2 linked regions of the Homo sapiens genome follow. The protein of the gene in region 1 interacts with the protein of each later gene in a biochemical or structural test. Each region holds a gene or a part of one and is shown on either strand. Other genes may lie near its edges.

Region 1 (8,746 bases):
TTTTTAGTAGAGACAGAGTTTCACCACGTTTGCCAGGCTGGTCTCAAACTCCTGGGCTCAAGTGACCCACCTGCCTTGGCCTCCCAAAATGCTGGGATTACAGGCGTGAGCCACCGTGTCTGGTCCAGAGGAGAACTGAAAGAACACACACACACAGGCAATCAAGAATGCTGAGGCCGGGTCGGTGGCTCTCGCTTGAAATCCCAGCACTTTGAGTGGCTGAGGCTGGCAGATCACTTGAGCCCAGAAGCTCGAGACCAGGCCGGCCAACACAGCAAAACCCCATTTCTATTTTCAATTTTTAAAAAAAAGAAAGAAAGGAAACAAATTAATTCCCCTCTGTATAGGCTATAAAGTCTTACCGGTTCCCATATTAATTAATGAATTAAGCAGACACATAAAGCACCTTTTTTTTTTTTTTTGTACTTTTAGTAGAGACAGGGTTTCACCATGTTAGCCAGGCTGGTCTTGAACTCCTGACCTCGTGATCCACCCGTCTCGGCCTCCCAAAGTGCTGGGATTACAGGCGTGAGCCACCGCATCCGGCCTCATTTTGTATTTGTATGAGAGTAATGATTTTACTATTTTGGGAAAAAATATCCTTTAATATCATAAAGCCAAATGTCTTCAGGCCAGCATTTAAAGCTCTCCCTTCATTTTGGCCGGACGCGGTGGCTCACGCCTGTAATCCCAGCACTTTGGGAGGCCGAGGCGAGCGAATCACCTGAGATCAGGAGTTCGAGACCAGCCTGACCAATACGGTGAAACCCTGTCTCTACTAAAAATACAAAAATTAGCTGGGCGTGGTGGTGGGCGCCTGTAATCCCAGCTACTTGGGAGGCTGAGACAGGAGAATCGCTTTGAACCCAGGAGGTGGAGGTTGCAGCGAGCGGAGATCGTTCCACTGCACTCCAGCCTGGGCAACAGAGCGAGACTCCATCTCAAAAAAAAATAAAATAAGGCCGGGCATGGTGGCTCACGCCTGTAATCCCAGCACTTTGGGAGGCTGAGGTGGGCGGATCACAAGGTCAGGAGAGACCATCTTGGCTACCACGGTGAAACCCCGTCTGTACTAAAAATACAAAAAATTAGCCGGGTGTGGTGGCGGGCGCCTGTAGTCCCAGCTACTCGGGAGGCTGAGGCAGGAGTATGGCGTGAACCCGGGAGGCGGAGCTTGCAGTGAGCCGAGATCGCGCCACCGCACTCCAGCCTGGGCGACAGAGCGAGACTCCGTTTCAAAAAAATATAAAAAGTAAAATAAAGTTACAAAGCGCCTCTCACGCATGTTACCCTCTGTGCAGCCATTGGCTCCATTACTGCGCTCTTGTTTCATGTCTGTCTTTCCCCACCAAAATATGCGCCCCACGAGAGCAGGAAGCTTGGCCTGCCTTGCTCACTGCTGAATCTCCAAGGCCTGGTGACCCCACACTCGCGCATACAGTAAGTGCACAATAAATGCCCGTTCGCTCCCTGGGCGACCCCTCCCCCCAGCCTAGGCTTCCGCTAACCTCAATCCATTCCAAAGGGTGTCAGGTTCCACCCTGAGCAAACACAGCTCCCCTGGCCCCTGGCCAGCCCTAAAGAGGAAGAACAAGTACCCATACTCCCTGCCCTGGACTTTCCCCGGGACTCAGGGCCACGAGGAAGCACCAAGCCAGGGGGCAGGACTTTCTCGAGATGCTGAGCCTGAGGCATCAGCTGGGGGCAGGGCCAGCCTCCAGAGCACCACCCCCGCCACCAGCTCCCTGTCCTCTGCGTCTTGACTCTTGGCCGCCTGACATTTCTACTTGGCTGTGCGGCCCGGGGTAAGCGGCTGTCCTTCTCTGAGCCAGGGTTCATCCTCTACAAACCAGGAAGCTGATGAGACCAGACTCCGATTCGGACCGGGATAGCTCGTCTTGACCCCAGAATGACCGAGAATCTGTTACCCGCTTTATTACATCCGGCACTCAACAGCCCTGTGCCTTGGTGACTCCATATCCCCCCACCCCTTTTTTTTTTTTTTTTTTTGAGACAGAGTCTCACTCTGTTGTCCAGGCTGGAGTGCAGTGGCACAATCTCGGCTCACTGCAACCTCCACCTCCTGGGTTCAAGCAATTCTCCTGCCTCAGCCTCCGGAGTAGCTGGGATTACAAGTGCTTGCCACCATATTCGGCTCATTTTTTGTATTTTTAGTAGAGACAGGGTTCCACCATGTTGGCCAGGCTGGTCTCGAACTCCTGACCTTGTGATCCACTCGCCTCGACCTCCCAAAGTGCTGGGATTACAGGCGTGAGCCACCGCGCCCGGCCCTCAATATCCCCATTTTACAGAGCAGGAAACAGAGGCCCGGAGAGAAGGGAGGTGTGGAAGCCAGATCTAACTGAGTCCACGGGTTTGCTCTCAAAACCCAGGCAAGGTGGGATCCATGTCGCCCACCCCCACGGACTCCCGAATCTCAAGCAAGCCTGCTCCCTGGGAGCTCTGCAGCCACACAGCCACAAGGTGACCCCAAATGCCGGGCCGCTCTGTCCCCCACTATGCGATCATCCATGCCTCCTCGGCCCCGGGGGACCCTCTTGGTTCTGGAGAGAGACTTGAGATGCAATCGGACACTTGGCTCACGAGGAAGCTCCCTTGGTCTTCCCATTTGGGAGCAAATGACCCAGAAAAACACTTTTGCTGCCGACCCCTCCCCTCTCTGGCTCTGAGCGCTCCTTCCTCCTTCCCCTCTGCCCCATCCCACAGAGATTTTGCTCGGAGGAGTAAAGATTAGAAAAAGAAGTCTGGGCGCAGTGGCTTGCGCCTGTAATCCCAGCACTTTGGGAGGCCGAGGGGGTTGGATCACCTGAGGTCAGGAGTTCGAGACCAGCCTGGCCAACATGGTGAAACCCCATCTCTACTAAAAATACAAAAATTAGCTGGGCATAGTGGTGGGCGCTTGTAATCCCAGCTACTCGGGAGGCAGAGGTGGAGGCAGAGGTTGCAGTGAGCCAAGATCGCACCACTGCACTCCAGCCTGGGCAACAAGAGCAAAACTCCGTCTCAAAAAAAAAATTAGCAAAAGAAAGGCCACCCCAATCCCTCCCTGCAAAGCTCCTGGAGGTTCCAGCGGTGAGAACAGGGTGAGGGGTTGGGGGGCGGGAGACGCAGTTGTTTCAAAACTTGGGAGCCTTTTAAGAAGTTCCAGGAGGCTCAGAGATGAGTGAGGTCGCAGCCTTTCCCACCTGTCACCTCCTAGCCTCGGGCTGCAGGAGGTAAACCCAGGCTCCGTCTGGACTGATATCCCCTCCCCTCCTCAGTTAGGGGGATCAGAGACCAACCTGTGCCCCTTTGCCGCCTCCCCGGTCCCTGCGCCACCTAGGTAACAATGACCCTTTTAAGTTTCCAGCTCAGCGTCCTGGGCAGGCCGCCAGGTGCAGTAACTGCCGGTCAGATAATCCCTACGAAACTATGTCAGATGCCCACGCAGGAGTGTCAGTTTCCTGCTTTCCGAGGAGCCGGGGAGACAGCTCGTGGTGGGGGAGGTTGGGGGGGAGTCTAAGGACCCTCAGCTGGGGAAGGCCAGCTCAGACAATGCACACTGGGTGGAAAAGCACAGTGGGGCGGGGGACTTACCTGTCTAGGAGGCTGGGTGGCCTCTGGGCAGGCAGCAGGTGCCAGGGCCCGGGTGCCTGCCTGGCACGGGTGGTGGGGAGGGAACCCGAGGCTTGTAGCTCTGGCCTCCCCACCTGTTTGACCAACTTTTCCTCTCTTGTGGTGGCAACAGGGAGGCAGGTCCCCTGCCAGTGGAACTGACGACCACAGACACAGGGAGACGGACCAGGGTGAGGGGCGGGCCAGCAGGAGGACTGGGTGTGTGGCTCTGTCGCAAGGTGCCCTCACGTGGGAGCAACTGGCCTTAACCCCTGCTTGCCCAGAGGTGAGCTTGCTCCTGCCTGTGCCCTCACCGCCGAGGCCCTGGTATCAAGCGTCCGCACATGGTAGGTGCTTAGGAAACCCTCGTTGGCTACATTCAGACATGAATGGACCGCACTCCCGGAGTCCCCCTCCCTCCTGCTTCTTGCATCTGGAGCTGCCCAGTCTCTGTGCTTGCTGAGCCTCCTGCCAGGCACGCCGGCCCATCAGGCTGTGGCTTGGCGCACTCCCTTCCCCACGCAGATCTGTGCGCAGTCTGCCTCTCTGCTACGAAGTGACTGGGTTCCTACGTACAGAAGCTTCTGCCACTTCCCCGCTGTGTGGCTTTGGGCAAATTACAGGGGCTTCTTGCTGTCCTCATCTAAAAAACAAGAAAGGGTCAGGTGTGGTGGCTCACACCTGTAATTCCAGCACTTTGGGAGGCCGAGGTGGGAGGATCACTTGAGCCTGGGAATTTGAGACCAGCCTGGGTAACACGGTGAAACCCATCTCTAGAAAAATTTTTATATATCTTTTGTTTGTTGTTTGTTTTGAGATGGAGTCTCCCTCTGTCACCCAGGCTGGAGTGCAGTGGCGCGATCTCGGCTCACTGCAACCTCCGCCTCCTGGGTTCAAGTGATTCTTCTGCCTCAGCCTCCCAAGTAGCTGGGATTACAGGCGTGCACCACCACGCCCAGCTAATTTTTTTTTTTTTTTTCAGTAGAGACGGGGTTTTCCTATGTTGGCCAGGCTGGTCTCAAACTCCTGACCTCAAGTGATCTGCCCGCCTCGGCCTCCCAAAGTGTTGGGATTACAGGCGTGAGCCACCGAGCCTGGCCTAGAAAAGTTTTTTTGTTGTTGCTGCTGGCTGTTGTTGGTTTTGTTTTGTTTTTTGTTTTTATTTTATTTTTTTTTTATTTTTTTGAGACAGAGTCTTGCTATGTTGCCCAGGCTGGAGTGCAATGGCTTGATCTCGGCCCACTGCAACCTTTGCCTCCCGGTTTCAAGTGATTCTCCTGCCTCAGCCTCCCGAGTAGCTGGGATTGCATTACAGGCACCAGCCATCATGCCCAGCTAATTTTTGTATTTTTGTAGAGACGGAGTTTCACCATATTGGCCAAGCTGGTCTTGAACTCCTGGCCTCAGGTGATCCGCCTGCCTTGGCCTCTCAAAGTGCTGAGATTACAGGCGTGAGCCACCACGCCCAGCCCAGAAAACTTTTTTAAAAATTAGCCAGATGTGGTGGTACACACCTGTAGTCCCAGAAACTCAGGAGGCTGAGGTGGGAGGATCAATTGACCCTGGGAGGTTGAGGCTGCAGAGAGCTATGACTGTGCCACTGCACTCCAACCTGGGTGACAGAGCAAGATCCTATCTCAATAAAATAAAATTAACCAGGAAGGGTTGGGCATGATGGCTCACACCTATAATCTCAGTACTTTGGAGGCCAAGGTGGCAGGATCACTTGAGGCCAGGAATTCGAGACCAGTCTGGGCAACATAGTGAGACACCCCCCCATCTTTACCAGTACATTAAAATTAAAATTTAAAAAATTAAGTCTGGGCTCAATGGCTCACCCCTGTAATCCCAGCACTTTGGGAGGTTGAGGTGGGAGAATTGCTTGAGTTAGGAGTTCGAGACCAGCCTGGCCAACATGGTGAAACCCCATCTCTACTAAAAATACAAAAATTAGCCGGGCAAGGTGGCATGCGTCTGTAATCCCAGCTACTCAGGAGGCTGAGACGGGAGAATCGCTTGAGCCCCAGAGGCAGAGGTTGCAGTGAGCCGAGATCGCGCCACTGCACTCCAGCTTGGGAGACAGAGCAAGACGCTGGCTGAAAAATAAATAAATAAATATTAAAATGCCACCTCACAGAGGTCATGGACTTTGTCGTGCTCATCCCTGCCGTGTCCTATGGCCTAGCACAGTGCCTGGTACACAGTAGGTGCTCAATACATGTTTTTGGAATGAATGGACTAGGGTCCCTCCAGCCTGCAGTACCTCCTGCTGACGGTAGTAGCCACTATGGCCACCAGGCGGCGCCAGAAACCACGCAACCGGCCCCCGCCGGGCAGCCTCGGTTTTCCACCCTGCGTAATGGGGACAGCCAACCAGGGGCGTGGGGGGATGCGGGGAAGGCACAGAAGGCTGGTGGCTCTCCCGGACCCCAGCCCCTCCTCTCTGTCCCTTGCCTCTCCCCTCCTGTCACCCCATCCCTGCCCTAGTTTTCTTTTTTTTAAGTTTTTTGTTTGTTTGTTTGTTTTTGTGTTTTGAGACGGAGTCTCACTCTGTCTCCCGGGCTGGAGTGCAGTGGCGCCATCTCGGCTCACTGCAACCTCTGCCTCCCGGGTTCAAGCGATTCTCCTGCCTCAGCCTCCCGAGTAGCTGGAATTACAGGCATGTGCCACTACGCCTGGCTACTTTTTTGGTATTTTCAGTAGAGGTGGGGTTTCATCATGTTGGCCAGGCTGGTCTCAAACTCCTGACCTCAGGTGATCCACCCACCTCTGCCTCCCAAAGTGCTGGGATTACAGGCGTGACCCACCGCGCCCGGCCAAGAGGCTGCTTTTAACTGCTTGTTTTGATGTTGACTTTTGCGTCTGTAAGTCATGACTGTTCAGCCAGTTTTAGTAATTTTTTTTAAGTATATTTCCTCTTCATTATCCTCATCAATGATCTAACCTCCAGCACTTCCTCCACTTTATCTGGCATCCAAATTGCCTGGAAGGGGGAAGTCATGAACACCCAGATTTTACCACCCCCACCACCCCGCCCAGTTTCTGGTGTGTGAAGTCTGCGTTGGAGCCTGGGAAACTGCATTTCTTTTCCTTTTCTTTGGTTTGAGACAGAGTCTCGCTCTGTCGCCCAGGCTGGAGTGCAGTGGTGCAATCTCGGCTCACTGCAACCTCTGCCTCCTGAGTTCAGGTGATTCTCCTGCCTCAGCCTCCCAAGTAGCTGGGACTACAGGCGCATGCCACCACGCCTGGCTAATTTTTATACTTTTAGTAGAGATGGGGTTTCTCCATGTTGGCCAGGCTGGTCTCGAACTCCTGACCTCAAGTGATCCGCCCACCTTGGCCTCTCAAAGTGCTGGGATTACAGGTATGAGCCACCGTGGCTGGCCCCTTCCCCCAAACTTTATCTGGCACCCAGTTTGCCTGGAAGGGAGGAGTCATGAACACCCAGATTGTGCCCTCCCACCACCCTACTCTGCCCAGTTTCTGGTGTGTGAAGTCTGGGTGGGGGCCTAGGAACCTGCATTTCTTTTACTTTTCATTGTTTGTTTTGAGACCAGGTCTCGCTCTGTTGCCCAGGCTGGACTGTAGTGGTGTGATCATAGCTCACTGCAGCTTCAAACTTCTGGGCTCAAGCGATCCTCCCACCTCAGCCTCCCAAGTAGCTGGGACTACAGGTGTGCACCACCATGCCAGGCTATTTTTGTTTTTTTGAGAGGAGTTTCGCTCTTGCTGCCCAGGCTGGAGCGCAATGGCGAGATCTTGACTCACTGCAACCTCTGCCTCCCGGGTTCAAGCAATTCTCCTGCCTCAGCCTCCTAAGTAGCTGGGATTACAGGCATGCGCCACCATGCCCGACTAATTTTTGTATTTTTAGTAGAGACAGGGTTTCTCCGTGATGGTCAGGCTGGTCTCGAACTCCTGACCTCAGGCGATCCACCTGCCTCAACCTCCCAAAGTGCTGGGATTACAGGCGTGAGCCACTGCATCTGGCCACGCCAGACTAATTTTTAATTTGTTTTGTAGAGATGGGATCTTGCTATGTTGCCCAGGCTGGTCTTGAACTCCTGGGCTAAAGTGATTCTCCTGCCTCAGCCTCAATCCCAAAGCACTGGGATTACAGGCATGAACCACTGCACCTGGCTTTGGAACCTGCATTTCTAACAAGCTCCCAGGGTGAGGCTGATGTGGCTGGCCCAGGGACCACACCTTGAGAGCCAGTGGTCTAAATCTTTTTTCAAAACAGATTCTGGGTGAATCAGGAGCTCTGTCCATGACCTGCGTCCAAAGAACTCTTCCTGGAGCCTTAAAATGGTCAAGGCCGCCTGCAGTGGCTGACGCCTGTAATCCTCACACTTTGGGAGGCCGAGGTGGGCAGATCACCTGACACCAGCCTGGCCAACACAGTGAAATCCCATTTCTACTGAAATTACAAAAATTAGCCAGGTATGGTAGCACACACCTGTGGTCTCAGCTACTTGGGAGGCTGAGGTGGGAGGATCGCTTGAACCTGGGAGGCAGAGGCTGCAGTAAGCCGAGATCACGCCACTGCACTCCAGCCTGGGTAACAGAGCAAGACTCATCTCAAAAAAGAAAAAACAAAAAATGGTAGTAAAATACGCACAACATACAATTCACAATTTTCACCATTTCTTTTTTTTCGAGTCTTGCTCTGTTGCCCAGGCTGGAGTGCAGTGGTGCCATGTTGGCTCACTGCAACCTCTGCCTCTCAGGTTCAAGTGATTCTCCTGCCTCAGCCTCCCGAGTAGCTGGGATTATAGGCCTGTGCCACTATGCCCAGCTAATTTTTTGGTATTTTTAGTAGAGACAGGGTTTCACCACATTGACCAGGCTGGTCTTGAACTCCTGACCTTAGGTGATCTGCCAGCCTCGGCCTCCCAAAGTGCTGGGATGACAGGCGTGAGCCACCGCACCCGGCCCATTTTCACCATTTCTTTCTTCTTCTTCTTCTTCTTTTTTTTTTTTTTTTTTTTTTGGAGACAGAGTCTTGCTCTGTCGCCCAGGCTGGAGTGCAGTGGTGCCATGTTGGCTCACTGCAACCTCTGCCTTTCGGGTTCAAGTGATTCTCCTGCCTCAGCCTCCCGAGTAGCTGGGATTACAGGCACGCGCCACC
Region 2 (6,596 bases), on another chromosome or scaffold:
ACTCACACAGAGTCCACGAGTAGAGGAGAAAGAGATTCACGTTCAGGGAGGCCAGCCAAGTTGGCTAGAACATGTAGTGTCTGGAAAGGAGGGAGCTGTAGGTTGACAGAGCCATGGAGATCGCCTCTTTGTCAAATACTCACCTGCACATGCATGAAAGGGCCAGGAAAGAAACATTAGAGGTTGGCTGGGCATGGCGGCATGGATCCTGAGCCACTGCGCCCATCCTAATTTTTGTATTTTTAGTAGAGACAGGGTTTTGCCATGTTGGCCAGGCTGGTCTTGAACTCCTGACCTAGGTGATCCATCTGCCTCGGCCTCCTAACGTGTTGGGATTACAGGCGTGAGCCACCATGGATTCCAGATTTTAACAGGACACCAAAAAACCTTGTGAAAAGTTGGACTTTTTTTTTTTTTCTATTAGGGAAGAAAATGCTGAAGAAAAAGCACAATTAGATCCAGAAAGTACACTTTTTCATATATAATAAAACTCCATTTGCTCTGTAGGCAACTACATTTATTTAGAATCTTTGGAAATATCTTACACATACAAACATTCAGCAGTTTTATTCTTCCTGGCTTACTTCCCTCTCATGCTAATTCCGATTAGTGATATCATTACTATACTGAAATGGCCCAAATGATGAGGCCAAATATAAGAGCACTACTTCTTTCACAAATTTCCATCTTCATAGCCTCTCAGCTTGTCAGTAAGTTCTGAGGCAAAAATATCTTTTTGGAAAGGCAATTACGTATTAGTCATGTGAGCGGAGACAGAACCGATTATGACAAGTACTAGTTCTATCAATTTAGTGCAGTAAGAAGTATAAAGCATCATAATTCCTTCATCAATATACTTTTACTAGCACGACCTAAAAGGATAATGTATAAAGAAACACCACAACAATGTATTATCTCAAAATGTGTATTTAATGGCCATTCCATCAAAATAAAGCAGAATCCCATTTCAAAACTATTATATGTATATATATTTTTAAGGTGCATTTTCAAGTTTTATTTGGGTTTCATTTCTTCTTGGCTTGCCTGAGGTGTTCTTGCAGGTACAATTAACACAAAATGTTCTGAGGGTAGTAGCTTTTCATGCACTGAAGAATGAGATCCTAACAACATTGCACATCTTGGATACATTAGAAATTTTAAAAGCCATGTGTAATTTCAGAAAACTTAATACCGTCATGAAAGACATTTTCAACACAAAATTTAGGCACTCTATACTTTGGAATAGCCATAAAATATTCCAACAAGAGTTAATGCACTTTGTGATTACATCTACTCAAAGATAATTCTCAATTAAAATCTATACTTATTAAATAACATTTTAAATTAGAGCCCATTAAATTTTGATAATTACTGTGAAATATTTGCAGCATTGTGTTGTAGTTAAATAATGCTGAACTACTTCTATTACTGACTCTAGTACTCATCCTTCATGGTTTTTTTTCTTTTTCGAGACAGAGTCTTGCTCTGTCACCCAGGCTGGAGTGGAGTGGCACGAACTTGGCTCACTGCAACCTCCACCTCCCAGGTTCAAGCAATTTTCCTGCTTCAACCTCCGGAGTAGCTGGGATTACAGGCGCCTGCCACTGCACCCAGCTAATTTTTGTATTTTTAGTAGAGACAGGGTTTCACCATATTGGCCAGGCTGGTCTCGAACTCCTGACCTCATGATTCGCCTGCCCTGGCCTCCCAAAGTGCTGGGATTACAGGCGTGAGCCACTGCACCCGGCCATGGTACTTTTAAAAACAGAGGACTCTATAGCATCCACCAGTAAGCATCTCTCCCTTTTTCTTGCTAATATATGAATAAGATTGCCAATAATCAACTTAAAGGTATTCTTGTATTTTCTGCTGTAGTTGATTTCTTAGCATGCAAAACTTCAGCAAATGGGAGTCTCCTTGGAGATCAGGAAACATCAGCCATGCATTTTCATCACATATTCCTAGGCTCAATTCATTTGCTCACTTTGCAGCTAAGTATGTTGCTCCCTTAGGTTCTTGCAGTCCATGCTGCTGGCCTGACTACTATGGAGGTAAAGGGAAATATAATCAAATATGTCACCCACTTTGCATAAGGCCAAGGCCACCTAGACCTTGTCTGACTTGAGACAAAACTTGCTGATCTCTGCCGTGTGGTTCTGGGGCTTCTACCTCCTTTTCCTAAGACCGAGGGGTGGGAATGATGCCTGCCAACTGAAATGCCATTAATTCCAGGTGATCTTCCTGGACTTGAATGTAATTTAGCACTGTTAGAATTCAGAACATGTATGCTAGTTGTTCCTGCTGAGAATAAGGTTCATTTGCTCAGTGGTATGCATTTATATGGCACAGAAAACAATTAGTCTTTCAGAATTTTTAGAAGATTACAGTCTGTAAATTGACTCATCAAAATCACCAATGACTAGCATATAAAGATCTATCCAGAGAAATGAATTTGAGACTTATTTGACCATAAGTCATACAGAAGACAGCACAGTAATTTCCCATAGGAGAATCTGGTATTTCATCTTGGGGATCACTGGTAAATTAATTACACTGCTAATGTTTTCTTGCTTACTTGAAGAGACAATTAGCATAAGTAAATCATGAGTGAGATGACAAGTTGCTTAACATTTGTTTCTGTCCATTGGATGAGATCTGAGGTTGCTGTTAAGCCTCGGTGTGAGTAGGGGATAGGGAGAGAAGAGTATAAGGAAAGAGAAGTTAACTCCAGTTTTGGTAAATATAATCAGAACCAGTTGGTTAAAATCAGAATACTGGGCTGGGCGCAGTGGCTCACGCCTGGAATCCCAGCACTTTGGGAGGCCAAGGCAGGCAGATCACCTGAGGTCAGAAGTTCAAGACCAGCCTGGCCCACATGGGGAAGCTCCATCTCTACTAAAAAAACAAAAATAAACCCAGTGTGGTGATGCATGCCTGTAATCCCAGCTACTCGGGAGGCTGAGGCAGGAGAATCGCTCCAACCTGGGAGGCCGAGGTTGCAGTGAGCCAAGATTGCGCCATTGCACTCCAGCCTGGGTGACAGAGTGAGACTCCGTCTCAAAAAAAAAAAAAAAAAAAAAAAAAGAAATCGGAACACTGAAATTAAATGCAAAACAGGTAGACTCATTTAAGTTTTAGAAATCAACCTCGCCAACAGGTGACAGGAACTGGGAAACATTAGGAGATGATTGTTGATTTGGGAAATTCACATGAAACCTCAGCCATTTCTCCTGAGCAGAGAGGGCAAGAAATAAGAATGAAGGTGCATTTTAGTTGAGGGTGCTTTTCATACCCACTCAGAACTTCATCTGCCTGTGGATATTCTAAACAACAACATCTATCTTGTGATCAGGCCCGAGGCTCATGACAGCACAGTTAAGGTTACAGTCCCTCTCTGGTGTTTTAGAATGGCGACTGCTTGCTCATGAGTAACACCTTCCAGGGTCTCGCCATTAACAGCTAAAATCTGATCCCCTCGTTTTAATCGGCCGTCATCTGCAGCTGCTCCCTACAAACAAGAAACATTTCAGTTTAATCCAGGGTAAAACACAGTTTATATTAAATTGATATTAAAACCTCTAACATCTGTCTGGTGTGCATATTAAAAGAGTAACTTTAAAAACTACCAATTAAGTTTTTTCTAGGTAATGTTTTAAATTAGGAAAAAAGTAAGATATGCTGTTTGAATAATAATGGTTGAATAGTAACTATAATTATGGATAATCTAAATAACATACTAGTAGAAATGTACTGATACACTGCTTTTAATACAAGTAGAACCTTATTTCACTATTTAGTATTAAATGGAATTGGATGTCATATCATGTCCTATTCATGAAAACGTAATATACAGAAAAAGGCAGATAGAACTGAATCTGGTGTTAGTCTTACTGCAAATACCACCATTATACAGAGTTCCCATTGCATTATTAAGCTATCAGCACTGTGATCTGTCAAAAATAAGTGTAGTCTTTAAATGGGTGAATTGTATGGTAAGTGAATTATATCTCAATAAAGCTGTTATCTACATATAAATATATACGAGTGTAGCATCTCTAAAATTTTGTAATATATTCAAAACCTTCCACTTTATCTTTGATCATCTAAATAGGTTTCTAAATGACTACTTTTATTATATACTCAGTCATGCATAGTTCCTCAAAACGGCACAAAGCCAGTGAAACTTCAGGGTTTTTTCACTCTAAAGCTGCATATCTAAAAATGCCACGATATTACTAGAAACATTTTGGACTGGTAAGGGAAGAAAAGACCTTAAAAAATGATTTACAGGAGGTTTCACCATCTGTAGGGGTAACTGTTTCAGTCCCTTGAAAAGTCAGTGCCAGAAGAATCCTCTAAATGAGGTCAAACTTCAGTGGGCAACCAAAGCCCACAGGCACTTGGCCCTCGACCGACTCAATCAGAAGCCGAGCTAGGAGGCACTAACGCTCCTGAGATCTGTGTCCATGTGCAGCTTGGAGGTCCTGAGGTGCTGGGGAATCAGACAGGTTTTCTAAACCGTGAGAATGGTGGAATTTCTAAATGAATGTGCAATAAAGAATATTCAAAACCTGCTGGGTGCAGTGGCTCATGCCTGTAATCCCAGCACTTTGGGAATCTCAGGCGAGAGGATTGCTTGAGCTCAGGAGTTTGAGACCAGCCTGGGCAACATGGTGAAACTGTCTCTACAAAAAATTAGCCAGGCGTGGTGGCTTATGCCTGTGGTCCCAGCTCCTCGGGAGGCTGAGGCAGGAGGATCACTTGAACCTGCAGAGGTTGGAGTGAGCTGAGATAGTGCCACTGCACTCCAGACTGGGTGACAGAGTGAGCTCTGTCTCAGGAAAAAAAAAAAAAAAAAAAGTATTCGAAATCAGGTCTATACTGTGGGCAAAATATCAAAACTAAATATTAATAACTTGCAACTGGCTGGACATGGTGGCTCATGCCTGTAATCCCAGCACTTTGGGTGGTCAAGGCAGGAGGATCACCTGAAATCAGGAGTTCAAGATCAGACTGGCCAACATGGTGAAATCCTGTCTCTACTAAAAATACAAAAATTAGCTGGATGTGATGGCGCATGCCTGTAATCCCAGCTACTTGGGAGGCTGAGGCTGGAGAATCACTTGAACCTGGGAGGCGGAGGTTGCAGTGAGCTGAGATCATCCCATTGCACTCAGCCTGGGCAAAAAGAGTAAACTCTGTCTCAAAAATAAACCCCAAAACTTGCAACTTCACTCAAATCTTTTAAGAAAGTAATGTGTCAACTGTATTAAAGACAAAATTAAACAAGTAATTTTACTGGATAAAATCAGAATTACTAGGCAAAGTTGATTTTATTAAATTTTACATGCTAAGATTTAAGGGCTTCAGTAAATCTCAGATATCTGTGTAAATTAATTTTTTAAAAACTATGTTAAGCTATTTATCTTTTTTAGTAATGCAAGGAAAGAATTTTTAAATTTTTTTGAGAAGGAGTTTCACTCTTGTCGCCCAGGCTGGAGTGCAATGGTGCGATCTCGGTTCACTGCAAACTCCACCTCCCAGGTTCAAGCGATTCTCCTGCCTCAGCCTCCCAAGTAGTTGGTATTACAGGCGTCTGCCACCAGGCCCGGCTAATTTTTGTATTTTTAGTAGAAACAGAGTTTCACTATGTTGGCCAAGCTGGTCTCGAACTCTTTTTTTTTGTTTTTTTTTTGAGACAGAGTCTCGCTCTGTCGCCCAGGCTGGAATGCAGTGGTGCAATCTCGGCTCACTGCAAGCTCTGCCTCGCCGGTTCACACCATTCTCCTGCCTCAGCCTCCCGAGTAGCTGGGACTACAGGCGCCCGCCACCACGCCTGGCTAATTTTTTGTATTTTTAGTAGAGACGGAGTTTTTTACCGTGTTAGCCAGGATGGTCTCAATCTCCTGACCTCGTGATCCGCCCACCTTGGCCTCCCAAAGTGCTGGGATTACAGGTGTGAGCCACCGTGACCGGCCTGGTCTCGAACTCTTGACCTCAGGTGATCCACCTGCCTCAGCCTCCCAAAGTGCTGGGATTACAGGCATGAGTCCGTGCCCAGCCAGGATGATTTTTTAACTTTCTAGGATTTGGACTTCTTCCAGTGTTGCAGTGCTTGGTTGATGAGCACTTACTGATATGTATCTACTCTCCTACTTTACCAATGCCGCATTTGTAGACTACAGGGAAAAAGGTAAAAAAGAAATAAATGCATGGCTTGAAAACCTCTACCTACTTTGTAATTGTGGCTCTTTACTCACTTGCTATTTGTCCCAAGTTGGTCACTTAGTCTTCTCAGATGCCGTAAAATGGGCATCTACTATCTACCTTGTGGCCTGTTCTAAGGATTAAATGTATGACATATGGCATTTACTCAACGTGGTGGTAATATAATAAAATAAAACACTAGTGACAACCAAGTTCATGGCTCAGATTTCATAGGCTCTGAAAAACTGCTCCTGAAATTTTTAGAGTTGCTGAAGTGTTTAGGTCAATCTCTTATTGGCTTAGGGTAACATTCAGCTGCTGAAGGGACTAAGACCTAAGGCTGGCTTGGATTATTTTTTTTTTTTTTTTTTTTTTTTGGAGACAGAGTC

Evidence for each region. Proteins that work in one complex are often made in the same cells at the same time.
Region 2: the proteins of TJP3 (region 1) and PATJ form a complex in vitro, tested with the Homo sapiens proteins (2 studies listed by BioGRID and IntAct, with this or other methods).

The regions. Positions count from the first base shown.
Region 1 is NC_000019.10:3,703,413-3,712,158, reverse strand, and holds the start of TJP3 (tight junction protein ZO-3), read right to left. Parts: upstream 3,776-8,746; 5' UTR 3,598-3,775; intron 1-3,597. UniProt on the Homo sapiens protein: TJP1, TJP2, and TJP3 are closely related scaffolding proteins that link tight junction (TJ) transmembrane proteins such as claudins, junctional adhesion molecules, and occludin to the actin cytoskeleton.
Region 2 is NC_000001.11:62,157,820-62,164,415, reverse strand, and holds the end of PATJ (inaD-like protein), read right to left. Parts: intron 3,509-6,596; coding exon 3,362-3,508; 3' UTR 501-3,361; downstream 1-500.